4 linked regions of the Homo sapiens genome follow. The protein of the gene in region 1 interacts with the protein of each later gene in a pairwise test. Each region holds a gene or a part of one and is shown in the gene's direction. Other genes may lie near its edges.

The links. Proteins that work in one complex are often made in the same cells at the same time.
Region 2: the proteins of TSEN15 (region 1) and ZNF554 interact in binary tests that used the Homo sapiens proteins (3 or more experiments, as listed by UniProt).
Region 3: the proteins of TSEN15 (region 1) and IKZF3 interact in binary tests that used the Homo sapiens proteins (3 or more experiments, as listed by UniProt).
Region 4: the proteins of TSEN15 (region 1) and POU6F2 interact in binary tests that used the Homo sapiens proteins (3 or more experiments, as listed by UniProt).

Annotation. Positions count from the first base shown.
Region 1 is NC_000001.11:184,058,230-184,061,729, forward strand, and holds part of TSEN15 (tRNA-splicing endonuclease subunit Sen15), read left to right. Parts: exon of another isoform or gene 1-11; intron 12-3,500. UniProt on the Homo sapiens protein: Non-catalytic subunit of the tRNA-splicing endonuclease complex, a complex responsible for identification and cleavage of the splice sites in pre-tRNA. It cleaves pre-tRNA at the 5' and 3' splice sites to release the intron.
Region 2 is NC_000019.10:2,818,479-2,822,667, forward strand, and holds the start of ZNF554 (zinc finger protein 554), read left to right. Parts: upstream 1-1,389; 5' UTR 1,390-1,593; coding exon 1,594-1,646; intron 1,647-4,189. UniProt on the Homo sapiens protein: May be involved in transcriptional regulation.
Region 3 is NC_000017.11:39,857,813-39,861,312, reverse strand, and holds part of IKZF3 (zinc finger protein Aiolos), read left to right. Parts: intron 1-3,500. UniProt on the Homo sapiens protein: Transcription factor that plays an important role in the regulation of lymphocyte differentiation. Plays an essential role in regulation of B-cell differentiation, proliferation and maturation to an effector state.
Region 4 is NC_000007.14:39,341,409-39,344,908, forward strand, and holds part of POU6F2 (POU domain, class 6, transcription factor 2), read left to right. Parts: intron 1-3,500. UniProt on the Homo sapiens protein: Probable transcription factor likely to be involved in early steps in the differentiation of amacrine and ganglion cells. Recognizes and binds to the DNA sequence 5'-ATGCAAAT-3'. Isoform 1 does not bind DNA.

The DNA of each region.
Region 1 (3,500 bases):
ATGATAACTTGGTAAGCCATTTTGATGCTGTTGCATTTAATAACTGAGAGAGCTTAAATCTTTATGTCTTGTTTTTATATAAATATTCTTAACTATATTATACAGTAGAATACTAATATAGAATGTAGCACAAATGAGGCCTGATACATACTAGATTTATATGCCTTTTAGTGCATAACATTTTCTCAACTCAAACTATGCAAATAACTTTTTAACAAATGGAAATGTGTGGGTGTATATGTGTGTATGTGTGATTTCATTATTCAGTCTTTAACAGGGCAGTCTTTTAGGTAGTAGGCATACTTTTATCTATTTTTACTTTTAGTGTATTTTATAATATAAAATGTTATATATCTAACAGTAATGCTGCAATTCCAGCCTTTCATAGTTAATGTGGGAATTTTTCTGTGTTAGTAACACAGAGAAGAAAATGATTGATGTTGAGTCTCTGATAACCTTGTATAGCAAAGAAATTCATTGGGACATGTCCTAAAAGTATTTGGTGGGAAGATGTGAGGGCAACTCACCATGAAAGAAAAAATACTTTTTATTTAAGAGGGAAAACAGCTTTTACTTATTCAGTGATAAAACATCTACATAAATTAACGATTCTGTTTTCACTTTTAAATATTATTATTTGTCAGATAATATTGCTTGGGCTTTTTGGTCTTAACAATTATTTATTGAGTGACTCTTATGTGTCAGGCAATGATCTAGGTGCTGGGGATACCATGATAACAAATACTTTCATGACATCCTCATGAAAGTAGTATTCTAGCACTGAATATTCGCTTAGAAAATACTTTTTTTTTTTTTTTTGGTAATTGTTGGATGGAATTTTAAAAAACAGAATTGCCCTTTGTTCAGATATTTAATTGAATGTGTGATTTGGGACTGCCTTCACTTATTTTGTAGCTAGATAATTGAATAACAAGTATTATGGAGTACTGATAAGTAGTTTAACAGGGATATGTACAAAATTATGTCAAAACCCAGAGGAAGGACAGGAAAAGTCTCTTTAGCCAGTAAGAGACCATGGTTTAGTAGGGTAACTGCAAGTAATTAAGCATGATTGCCTACCTAGCATGGTGTCTAGTCAGAGTAGGTGTCTAGTAATATTCCTTAAGGCAGCAAATGAATGAATGAATGAATGAATAAAATTTCAGAGAAAAGAGGGAAAGGATGGAAAATTAGATGGGAAAGTTTATTTAGATTATGAAGGCCATCATTGTTTTTACTTTTTTGCTATTACTAATGGTATTCTAATGAATAGCCTTGTGAGTACCTCCTTGTACTCATGTATGAGAGTTTTCCTAAGAATAGCTGGGACATGTATACCTTTATACCTTCTTTTTTTTTGAGATGGATTCTGGCTCTGTCACTCAGGCTGGAGTGCAGTGGCACAATCTCGGCACACTGCAGTCTCCGCCTCCCGGGTTCAAGTGATTCTCCTGCTTCAGCGTTCTAAGTAGCTGGGATTACAGGCATGCACTACCATGCCCAACTAATTTTTTGTGTTTTAGTAGAGACAGGTTTTTGCCTTATTGGCTAGGCTGGTCTCGAACTCCTGACCTCAAGTTATCTGCCCGCCTTGGCCTCCCAAAATTCTGGCATTACAGGTGTGAGCCACTAGGCCTGGCCTATCCCTTCATCTCTACTGGTTATTGCTAAATTGTTTTCAAAAGGATTATTACCAGTTTACACTTGCACTTGCAATGTGTAAGTTTTCACAGACTGGGAGAAGATTTATAACATGTGCATAACTGACAGGTTAATTTAGAATTAGCTTCTGTGATTTCAGAAAAAAAATCCCAATGGGAAACATGGGCAAAGAATATGAACAGGCAACTCACAGAAGAGGAACTCAAATGCTCAAATATGTTTGTAAATGAAGGAATTACAAATATAAAATGTGTTTGTGTTGTCTTAACTTTGAAGAAGACTTGCAGACAGTTTGTTTTTATTTTTTGACAGAAATAAGGTACTGTTTAATGGGGAACTTTTGAACAGAACTACAGCTAGCACTTAGAGAGTCTCTGAACAGTTTAGGAAAAGGAGCTCCCTCTCGACATGCAAAGGAAAATGTCTCTTCACTAAGGTTCAAGGCTTGGCGAACAATGAAGGCCAGATTTTAGATCCACTTGTGCCAGGCACCGTTGTGCAAAGCACAATCTGCATATCTGTACATGATGCCCTGCCCCTGAAGCATGTCTGTGGAGTCTTAGGTTTCCACAAAGAACACTATGAAAATTACTGCTAAATGGGTGGTGTCATTGAAGGGCTTTAAGCAAGGAAGTGAGACTATTGTTTATTCTATGTGGTTTTAAGAATACTTTGCATTTGCAGAGAATGTTACAGAATTTCAAAGTATTTCAAAATATTTTTACAAGTAGACTTTCATTAAATCAGCACCAAAATCCCTAGTGGTATACGGGGTGTTTGTTTTATCCTAACTTTACATACAAAAAGCTGAGGTTAAAAGTATATTTTCATTTGTACCCCCACTTTTTCCAAAAGATAATAAAAGATTAAGTGAGCTGTACCACGGTCTCAGTTAGCCTCACAGCTATTAGAGTTTCTCTTGCTTTATTGGTTTTTAAAAAGATTTTATTGTAAATGAAACTAGATACGGAAAACCACACAATACCAATGTATAAATTAATGAGTTATAAGGCAAACGTCTAGAACTCTTGTAATTATAACTAAGTCAAGAAATAGAACTTTTCTAGGCACCCCACAAACTTTTCAATGTGCCCCATCCCAATCATAATCTTTCTTCCCCCCCAAAATAGCCATTATTCTTTCTTTTATAGTAATAATGGGCTTTGGCCCATATATTGTTCCCAGGACCTCTTAGTGCTAATTTGTCTTTTGACTCTCACTCAAGAAAGAATGTTGGAATATCACTGGTGAGACTGATAATATTATCAGGAATATTAGTTTTATATTTAAAAATACCCTGCCAACTTTACTACTCTATTGTTAGAAACAAATTACTTGCCACATACTATACAACCAACCTCAGCATACCAGTTGTAAATCACCATTTTAGACTGTGCGTCTTAGCTGCTTGAATATAGTGCTTTAAAAAATGCTTTGTAGTCCTCAAAAAACCTTAAATAACATTTTTATTAGTAGGAGAGTTGGGTAGCATACACAGCTGTAGAGCCAGAGGAGTTGGCAGTTTGCTGGAGCTACAATTTCTTATTATTTACAAAGAGCATATAGCACATAAGGCCTGATAACTGTCTCTTTTATTGAAGGAGACAAATTTTATAATCTGTTGTTTGTAAAACTGAACCAAACTCTGTCATTTACATAGTTAACTACAACTTAGTTATAAAGTATTTCCCTAGTGATGACAAATAGTCCCACTGTTTCAGTCACCACTTGACTGTTATGTGGCAGAGTGGCATGTATATTTATATGGTTTATTATTTATTTTATGGTGTATATGTATTTTCTGCCTCCTTAAAAAGTAATTGTTCTAAGGAGTGTTT
Region 2 (4,189 bases), on another chromosome or scaffold:
TCAGAGCAGGTGACCAAGGATGACTAAGGTCAGAGCAGGTGACCAAGGATGACTAAGGTCAGAGCAGGTGACAAGGATGACTAAGGTCAGAGCAGGTGACCAAGGATGACTAAGGTCAGAGCAGGTGACCAAGGGTGACTAAGGTCAGAGCAGGTGATAGGGGCTAGGAGGGGTTGTTTACTGAAACTAGGGGCAAGGAAACGAAAAGAACGAGGAAGTTAAAGTTTAAAATGAAGAACAAAGAATAGGTGGCCGGGCGCGGTGGCTCACGCCTGTAATCCCAGCACTTTGGGAGGCTGAGGCAGGCGGATCACGAGGTCAGGAGATCGAGACCATCCTGGCTAACACGGTGAAACTCCGTCTCTACTAAAAATACAAAAAAATTAGCCGGGCGTGGTGGCGGGCGCCTGTGGTCCCAGCTGCTTGGGAGGCTGAGGCAGGAGAATGGCGTGAACCTGGGAGGCGGAGCTTGCAGTGAGCCGAGATCGCGCCGCTGCACTCCAGCCTGGGCGACAGAGCGAGACTCCATCTCAAAAAAAAAAAAAAAAAGAACAGGGGAGCTGAATATACGGAAACATTGGTTCTTTGGAGAGGAGCTCATAACTGATTGTACTTAACAATTTACAGGCTAAAACCTTTGAAGAGGAATTTGTTGTATCCTACAACAGTATATTAATTATAGTAGTTTTACTATTTTAATTTCTCATAAATAACAATCAGTAGAATATTAAATAAATATTTAAACAATAATTTAATTTGGCTGGGCGTGGTGGCTCACGCCTGTAATCCCAGCACTTTGGGAGGCCAAGGCGGGCAGATCACTGGAAGTCAGGAGTTCGAGACCAGCCTGGCCAACATGGTGAAACCGCGTCGCTACCAAAAATATAAAAAATTAGCCGAGTGTGGTTGTGCACGCCCGTAATCCCAGCTACTTGGGAGACTGAGGCAGGATAATCGCTTGAACCCGAGGGGGCGGAGGTTTCAGTGACCTGAGATCATGCCATTGCACTCCAGCCTGGGCGACAAGAGCGAAACTCAGTCTCAAAAACAAACAACAATTACTTAAGCAATCATTTTAATAAGTATGTAATACATTATACGTTTATATAACTTGCTTAATAAATAATAGTAGTTATTAATATCCAATGGCAAGCCGCCGGGAAACGACGGAGCTGGGATTTGAGGATTGGCTCCGCGAACCCCACAACACCCGGGGACTCCAGCGAACCACACGGGGTGGATCCAACAGCCGCAGGGGCATCGTGGTCCTGCGGAGACGCCGCCCGCCCGGAGGCGGCGCTGTGACCCAGGTTGGAGAGTCAGGAGCCCAGCGCCGCGCTGCGGGGCCTGCTGGGACTTGTAGTTCGCAGGTTCGGGGTGCGCAGGCGCAGTGCCGAGTTTACCTCTGCGCGCGTCGGGGTTGGTGGCGGCGGCTGCGGCGAGTTCCTGAGGGGCGCCTGCGGGGGGCGTCCGCTCCGAGCGCCGAGGAGCCGAGCGGAGGAGGCGTCCCAGGGACACGCAGGGGAGGCCGGCCGGCCTGCACGGGGCGCTCCCGCCTCGGGGGCCCTGTCTGGCGCCTCAGCGCGCGCCCCGATGGTCACCTGCGCCCACCTGGGCCGGCGCGCGCGGCTCCCGGCAGCTCAGCCGTAAGTGCCGCCGCCTCCCGCGCCGCGACCTCCGTGCCGGGCCTGCCGGGGCTCTGGTGGGGCTGGGTCTGGCGGGGCCGGGTGGCCGGGGCATGACCCTGTCGCGATAGGGTCCCCACGGGAGGGTCGGGAGCCGGCAGCTCGCCCAGGGCCCCAACGCCCAGGATGGCACGGTCTGCCCTTGCCCTGTGAAAACGCCCCTGGGTGAGAGACGCATAAGCTTTCCGAGGCCCAGCCTGCAAGGAGAGGGAGAAGACGCATTGACTCTACCCTAAAGGCAGAGAGGGGCTGCCACGCTCGCACTGCAGTGAGGCCACATCAGAGGGTCTGAGCGAGGGGCGGTCCTGCCCTCCAGGGGACACCGGGCGATGTCTGGGGACGTCTGTGGTTGTCATAACTGGGGGCAGTTCCTGGCATGGAGTAGGTGGAGGCCAGGGATGCAACTCAGCACCCTGCCCAGCCCAGAGAATGACCCAGGCTCCAGTGTCCACAGCGCCCTGAGGGAGAGACCTCACTTATACGTTAGCACCGCTGTCCTGGTGATAAGACAGCAAGGGTCCTTTTTTTTTTTTTTTTGAGACGGAGTCTGGAGTGCAATGGCATGATCTCGGCTCACTGCAACCTCCGCCTCCCGGGTTCAAGCCATTGTCCTGCCTCAGCCTCCCAAGTAGCTGGGATTACAGGCGTATGCCACCACGCCCGGCTAATTTTTGCATTTTTAGTAGAGACGGGGTTTCACCATGTTGGCCAGGCTGGTCTCGAACTCCCACCTCAGGTGATCCACCCGCCTCAGCCTCCCAAAGTGCTGGGATTACAGGCGTGAGCCACCGCGCAGCTGCAAGGGTCTATTCTGTTTATACCCACCACCCATGTTGAGGAATGAGGGAGGCAGCTGACCTTTCTGCTGCTCTAGCAACCCCAACCTCCCTGAACTCTCCCCTACCCAAACAGGTTGGTTTCTTTTTCTTCTTCTTTTTTTTTTCTTGAGACAGTCTCGCCCTATTGCCCAGGCTGGAGTGCAGTTGCACGATCTCGGCTCACTGCATCCACCTCGTGGGTTCAAGTGATTCTCCTGCCTCAGCCTCCCAAGTAGCTGGGATTACAGGTGCACGCCACCCCGCCTGGCTAATTTTTATATTTTTAGTAGATACAGAGTTTCTCCATGTTGGCCAGCCAGGCTGGTATCGAACTCCTGACCTCAGGTGATCCACCTACCTCGGCCTCCCAAAGTGACCACTGCGCCCGGCGCCTTTGGTTCTTACATGAGCCTCCTGGAGCTGCTGTGACAATGCACCACAAACCAGGGGGCAGGGGGAGGCTTGAAATTTATTCTCTCACAAGTCTGGAGGCCAGAAGCCCAACATGAAGATGTGGTGGGGCCGTGGTGCTTCTGAAGGCTCTGGCGGGAGGATCTTCTCTGTCTCTTCCAGCTTCTGGGGGTGGCCTGCCATAGTTGGTGTCCCTTGGCTTGGGGCCACATCACTCCAAGCTCTGCCTGCATCATCATGTGGCCTTCTTCCCTGTGTCTCTTTCTCCTTTTTTGTTTTTATTTTTATTTTTTGAGATGGGGTCTCGGTCTGTCACCTGGCTGGAGTGCAGTGGCACGATCTCGGCTCACTGCAATCTCTACCCCACAGGATCAAGCAATTCTGCCTCAGCCTCTCGAGTAGCTGGGATTACAGGTGCACGCCACCACACCCAGCTAATTTTTGTATTTTTAGTAGAGACGGGGGTTTTGCCATGTTGGCCAGGCTGGTCTCGAACTCCTGACCTCGTGGTCTGCCCGCCTTGGCCTTTCAAAATGCTGGGATTACAGACGTGAGTCACCTAGTCCAGCTGTCTCTTTCTCTTATAAGGACAATACTCATGACCCCAGTAGCTGGAAGAGGCGGAAGGATTTTTCCTGAGAGCTTTTGTTTCTTCTTTTCCTTATCTTTTCTTTTTGAGATAGAGTCTTGCTCCATTGCCCAGGCTGGAGTGCAGTGGCACAGTCTTGGCTCACTGTAACCCCTGTCTCCCAGGTTCAAATAATTATCGTGCCTCAGCCTCCTGAGTAGCTGGGTTTACAGGGATGTGCCACCACACCTGGCTATTTTTTTTGTATTTTTAGTAGACGAGGTTTCACCATGTTGGCCAGGCTGGTCTTGAACCCCTGGGCTCAAGTGATCCTCGCGCCTCAGCCTCCCAAAGTGCTGGGATTACAAGTATGAGCCACCATACCCGAGCTTTTCCCTAGAGCCTTCAGAGGGAGTACAGCCCTGCCCACACCTTGATCTCAGACTTCCAGAACTGGGAAAGGATATATTCCTGTTATTTTAAGCCCCCGGGTTACTGGCACCTTGTGAAAACAGCCTCAGGAAATGCATGGAGCGCTTCACTTCCTAATGGAGCCTGGGTGTTTTGTAAACTTGTTTGCTTCCAAGGGCCTCAGGACCTTCATCCATAAAATGGGGCCTTTAAGACCCCTGGCCATGGATGTGTGTGGCGTCTCACACCTTTAATCCCAGAATTTAGGGAGGCTGAGGAAGGTGGATCCCTTGAGC
Region 3 (3,500 bases), on another chromosome or scaffold:
TCACCCCTACCCAGTCTCTCATGTTCCTTCACCTCAGCTAAGGGCCTCTCCTTTCTGTGTATACTTCTACCACATTGTGTTGAAATTATTTATTGATGTAGGTGTTTATTCCCCCTCTGGTCTTTAAGCTTCTGGAGAACAGAGACTGTGTCTTGTTTTTGTACACTGAATGCGAAGGACAGTTTCTGGTTCATAGAAGGCCCTCAGAATTTGTTGCATTCAATTAAAATAGTGCTGAAAAAGTACTTTTTATTATGTTTATTGTGATGCATTTTATTTAAATAAATTTTTAAAGTAGGAGATTGGGGCTAGTAATTCTTTGATAAAGCTCAGTAATTTTTTAAGCACTTAAACTGTATAATTGAAAAAGAAAGCTTGGAAAACAAAAATGTTATTGGATATTTTTTGCTAGACTGTCACTTAAAGCCAATTTTAACAAAATTAGATTTAGGGGGTACATGTGCAGGTTTCTTACATAAGTATATTATGTGATGCTGAGGATTGGGCTTCTATTGATCCTGTCACCCAAATAATGAGCATAGTGTCCTATAGGTAGTTTTTCAACCCTTGCCCTCCTCCCACCCTTCCCCATTTTGGGGTCATCAGTGTCTAATTTGGGGGTCACATTAATTCATAACAGTCCATGTGTACCCAGTGTTTAGCTCCCCGTCATAAGTGAGAACATGCGGTATTTGGTTTTCTGTTTCTGTGTTAATTCACTAAGAATAATGGCCTCCAGCTGCATCCATGTTGTTGCAAAGGATATGATTTCATTCTTTTTTGTGTAAAGCCAAATTTTAACTGTTAAATTTACATAAGCAGATTTCAGGATCGCAATTAGTCCATTAAAATATCCATTGAATATGAGCAGAAATTTGTTTTCTCAGTCAGTAAGATATAGATGATGCCATAAAAATAGCATACGCTTTCAAGTGATACTTTAAAAATACATTGTTATAAACTTTTCATTCATATATAAATGTATATACTTACACTTATTTAGGACTAAAAGATTATTGATTATTGGTAGATCTTTTATCAGACATCCAGTTTTTTTTTTTTATTATTATTTTTAAAGAGATAGTCCTTGCTCTGTTGCCCAGGCTACCACAAACTCCTAGGCTCAGACGATCCTCCTGCCTCAACCTTCTGAGTAGCTAGGACTACAGGCATCCACCACCATAACCTGGTAATTTATTGTACAAACCGCCATGACCTGCTGATTTATTATCTTTCATTTTTTGTAGAAATGGGGGTCTCACTATGTTGGTCAGGTTGGTCTTGAATTCTTGGCCACAAGTGATCCTTCCGCCTCAACCTTCCCAAGTGCTGGGATTACAGGAGTGAGCCACTGCACCTGGCCTAGATAGATGTCCAATGATAATTGGCTCATATGTCAAGCTATAGTTCCAGACCATGTATGAGAAGAACTGAGTGATTAACACAGAAACTTGCCTATAGTAGGTGCTCAATAAATGTCTTTTGTCCTAAGGATTCATTAATTATTTTGAAAAGAGACCCTACACATCACAAGGCCATAGAATGTACTCTGCTATTTAGCCTTTATTAAATTTAGCTCCATATTAACTGGTATATTTATGATAATTAGAAATTATAAGGATGAGGCCAGGAGTGGTGGCTCACGCCTGTAATCCTAGCACTTTGGGAGGCTGAGGCGGGCAGATTGCTTGAGCCTGGGACTTCAAGACCAGCCTGGGCAACATGGTAAAACCCTGACTCTACAAAAACTACAAAAATTAGCCAGGTGTGGTAGCACATGCCTGTAGTAACAGCTACTTGGAAGGCTGAGGTAGGAAGATGGCTTGAGCCTGGGAGGTCGAGGCTACCGTGAGCCATGAGCATGCCACTGCACTGACATGAGCATGCCACAGCCTGGGCAACAGAGCAAGACCCTGTCTCAAAAAAAAAAAAAATCATAAGGATGACACCAAGGCCTTTTGGATCACTAAAAAAAAGATGCAATAATGAAACAATAATTATAATTTATTTATAATATATATAGATTGTTTGAAAAGTAATCTGTGTATAACTTTATTAATTAATATTACTATATAACTCATCAAAATACTTTTATCCCTAGTGATTCTGAATGAGGTTATTTTTTCAGTCTAATTGAAATCTGGTTTTTGCATCCAAAATTAAAAGTTTTTTTTTTAATTAAAAAGTTACTTAAAAAATTTAAGGGCTGGGCACAGTGGCTCACACCTGTAATCCCAGCACTTTGGGAGGCCAAGGTGGGAGGATTTCTTGAGGCCAGGAATTTGAGACCAGCCTGGGCAACATGGTGAGGCCCTGTTTCATAAAAAATAATAATAAAATAAAAGTAAATTGGCCTGGTGTGGTGGTGTGCACTTGTCCCAGCTACTTGGGAGGCTGAGGTGGGAGGATGGCTTGACCTGGGAGTTTGAGGCTTCAGTGGGCTGTAATGACGCCACTGCACTCCAGCTTGGGCAACAGAGTGAGAACCCATCTCAACAACAACAACAAAAAATGTAAGTCCAAAGTGGTATACAGTAAATGAAAATAATATGGAATTACCGTATTATATTAAATACCAATACCATATGAAAATATTATGTTAGATATGTGTCCAATCCAGGAGATATTTAAAAACTGGGTACTTGATGGTTACAGGCGCCTGTAGTCCCAGCTACTCGGGAGGCTGAGACAGGAGAACTGGTTGAACCTGGGAGGTGGAGGTTGCAGTGAGCCAAGATCGCGCCACTGCACTCCAGCCTGGGTGACAGTGTGAGACCCCATCTCAAAACAAACAAACAAACAAAAAACTAGGTACTTGGTAATGGATATGAAACAAAGTGCATTACTCTTTACTTATTGTCAGTACTTAAAATCAGCTTACTGAGTGATTTTTTATAACAGTGGAATTGGCAATATGTCACAAATTGTACTTAGTAGTGTTCTTAGAGATGAAATTTTTGGCAGATTAGGTTATTGTGGGTTTACAAAGGAAACTTTTCTTTCTTTCCTTTTTTTTAATAGAGACATAGTCTTGCTATGTTACCCAGGCTGGTCTTGAACTCGTGAGCACAAAAGATTCTCCTGCCTTGGCCTCCCAAAGTGCTAGGATTACAGATGTGAGCCACCAATGCCCAGCCAATGAAGGAAACTTTTAAAATAAGAAATGGAAAACATTTCAATACTGTCACTCATGAAACAGAACAAAACTATTATTTTTCTACTCTGAATTATCTAAGGATTATGCAACTAAGTTTCTTGTTTATTTTGTTGATTAATACACCTATAGCCCCTTCTAGACTGTTATTTTCCAAAGTTTAGGGATCTCTCTCTCTCTCTTTTTTTTTTTTTTTAATTTTTGAGATGAGGTCTCTCTACATTGCAGGCTGGTCTCAAACTCCTGGGCTCAAGCGATCCTCCCACCTCATCCTCTTGAGTAGCTGGGACTAGAGGCATGTGCCACCATGCGTAGCTGGGGATCTTTTTATAATCGGTGGTAACTA
Region 4 (3,500 bases), on another chromosome or scaffold:
TAGGACTAAAATGAACATGGTCCAAAAACGTCTTCATTGTCCACTTGACACCTACTGAAAGAGCAGGTGTCATCAAATTTACAGAAGGCATGATTACAGCAACCTTAATGTTGGCAGCATTTGGGATTCAACTTTATTATTCCAAAAAATTAATTTAATGCTTTTTAAGAACACTTACATTAGATGTACCTATATACCATCTAATTTCTCTATTCCAGGCACCAAAATAGGTAAAATTACCAAAGAAAAATATTGCCCTTCCTTGAGGAGTGAAATTACTTAGGTGTGTCCCCAGTTGTCCGATATAGTCCAGTATTCCTTCCTGTTAGGTGAAAGTTTTGAGCTCTGTGGACCTCAGCCTTCCCTGAACACTGTCAGTGTTTTATAAATTTCTGTTGGCCAGTGAGATCCCAGTGAAGACAAGCCCTGTTGAATGACTGTTGACAGGACTTTAGATGAAGTGACCACGCAGCCTCATGAAAATAAACTTAGGGGAATTTCCGAAAGTTCTCCTAACAGTTTCTCGTGGAAATCCCAGGGCTGTTTGTTTTGTTTTGGTTTTGCAACAAATGAAGGCTCAGAGCTACATTTCTTTCTTTGTAACACTGAGAGAATATTCTAATTTTTCATTTTTGAAGTTTTAACTTATAAACTTAATAAATATGTTTAGAGTACATTTAAATATAGAGGAGCTGTTACTCTAACTTCTGTGGATCTAACAGATGACCACCAAATGAGTGACTTGCTACAAATTTTTTTTAAAACATTACTGAGAAGATGTTAAACAAATCTGTGTCGGTAGGCATAAAAGGACTTTTTTCCTTTACTACAGGCATGTATAAAGGAAATAGAGAATATTTTGGTTTAAAAAAAATTTTTACACTAGCTGCAGGCTTTTTGAGTTTGTGGAACATGGAATGTTTGAACTTTTTAAAAAGAAAACTGTTTAAAAGGAATTGCAAAGATATTTAACTCTCCAAACTAATGATCTTTATAAAGTGTTTTTGTTTGAAGATTATTAAGGGAATAAAGATCAACTAAATTCATGTATGATAGCCTAAATTTTATTTTACAACCCTTTATTTTCATGTGGGCTTTATCTTTTTACATTATTCAAAAATCTGCTGGAGAGATATTAGTTTAGAACTATGCAATGTAGATTACCAGGGAAAGCCAGTCAATTAGGTTTTTTGCTTTAAAAACAAAACTTTGGAGGACAACAATTATTTCTAAAACTGTGCAGATGCTCCCATATCTTTAGAAAAAAATAAATGTAAGTAGGTTGTGTGTTATATTTGGGTGAGGTCATTTCCTGAGATGAAAAAAAATTAATAGTGTTGGTAGGTAGTAACACTCTAAACAAAAATTATCCAAATACCTCGTATCAGGCTTTTCTGCAATATTGCAGTGTAATTTTATTTTACTCTTTTACTGAATTCTGTGAAAAGGATTACATTTACAAAACCAAGTTGTTTTAAGATAGATAGGAGTCTAAAGTATTATCCTTTCAGAGACGCACAGGTAGGGGGATCACTTTGTTTATTAATTTTGATCACTCAGCATTATAGGAGGTCTGGTGGTCTAAAGCAGACTCTAGAAGCTGCCCCTGGAGATCTGTCTATAGATTCTCCATTGAGACTCAGGACCCACCCACCCATGGCTTCGTTCTTGCCCAGGAGGCTTGAGGAGAGAAGTTCTAGACAGGAAATGCAAGGGCAGAGGTCTTCAGGGCCTAGCAGTCCCTGTAAATAAGTAAAGTAATCTTGGTTGTAGAACCCAAAATCAAATTTATAAAAACAGTGTGTGGGACAAACAAGATGCACTGTGAGCTGAATTTAGTCCTTGGGTGCCAGGATGGAGAGCAGTCCATACTCCTTATTTTTGCTCAAACCCACAGTCCACAGGCTGTGCCTGAATCTAAAACTAAAAATATAGACTGTGTTTGATAGAAGCAGAAACATAAATGGAAGCAATCTTTTGGGGCAAAAAACATGATCTAGGTAAAAAAAAAAAAAAAATTCAATACGTAATTTTAATCTGGATAGAGACCCCATAAGCATAAGAATGGTGAAATAAAAGCCTCCTTTCTATGACCTTTAAGAAGAATTTTCTTGAAAAGAAAACTCCTTGGGAGTTTTTATTTGCACTGGTAAAATTTCAGACATCTTATAAAAGCCCTATTGTGCACATATTCCCTCTTGAGTGGTCTGGAGATATGCTGGGCATGGTTGGAGCCCAGTCATGGTGTAGGTGGAAGAGGGTAACCGGAGGGCTTGAGTCCCCCTTCTAGTTCTGACCCTGCCTCCAACTAACTCATAACTTTGGATAGGTCACTTTAGCTCTCTGGACTTCATTTCCCTCATCCGTGTGGTCTGAGGTCTTTTTCAGGCCTATGAATCTATAATCTCAATGTTAGTAGGCCTCTGGAATTTTATTGGCTATTGAAAACTTGATGGTCCTGAAGATTCTCTGAGTATTCTTCAAGGTCAGGTTAATTTCTTCCCACTCAGCTGGGTGGCAGAGTGAAAAGAGAGTGGAGGACAAACATAAGTGGGATAATGATAGCAGAAGCAGATTTTATCTTAGCCAGAGAGTCCAAATTAAAGTCAAGTTTTTATCCTCAGAGAGTCACTGCTATAAGCTCTGGTCCCAGATTGCTTTTCCACACCTATACATTAGAGAAGCTTAAGAAACCAAATGCTGCATTTAACCTTGGCCTCCCACGTACCATCTTGCATGGCAGGACGCAGGATAATCTTTTCCTTTTCTTGTTCTATTGCACATTTTAATAAATAACAGAGGGAGAGAGAGATCAGTAGGAATTGGACAGTGAAAACTATCTGTGCTTATATGAGGAATGAGGGGCACGGTCACCTCCTCGGAGGTGAAGTTGCTTGAGAGCGTGAAATGTATTCTCAACCATGTGCATTTGCTAATGGAAAGGTCTAGTTACCACTCAGGCACAGCAGAGTAAAACTGCATCGGAATCCCACCTCTGTTGCGCAGTGGGCATTGCCTTCTGGTCTTCCCATTTGAGATATTTTCCCACTGGCAAACTTAGTACTAAGTTCCAAAGTGCATACATAATGGGAGAAGGTGGTACATTATCACTTTTTAAAATAAAGAGCCCAAAGCCTTGGGAAGGAGCTAGACCTACGGGACTTTCAAGTTCTCTAAAGCAAATGGTCTCCAATCATGGGTCTGCCCTATGGAAAAGACCCAGTGTCCTAGGCCAAACCCCCTCCCCCCCCAGCAATTAGTCTTAATCGGTTTACCACAATATTACTCAAGGCTCTGTGGGACTAGGTTTGTTTTTTCATCTATAAAAGGGAGGGGGTAAAATTAAATACTTTCTAGAACTCCTTCAGTTCCATTGGAGTTTTATGTTACAAACCCCTAAAACTGTGTAGAGTTGGGTGACTCTGTGGGTGTATTCATATAACTCCTTTGTGTGGCTACTGTAAATATAGAACTCAGACATCTCTCTACCTACACAGGGC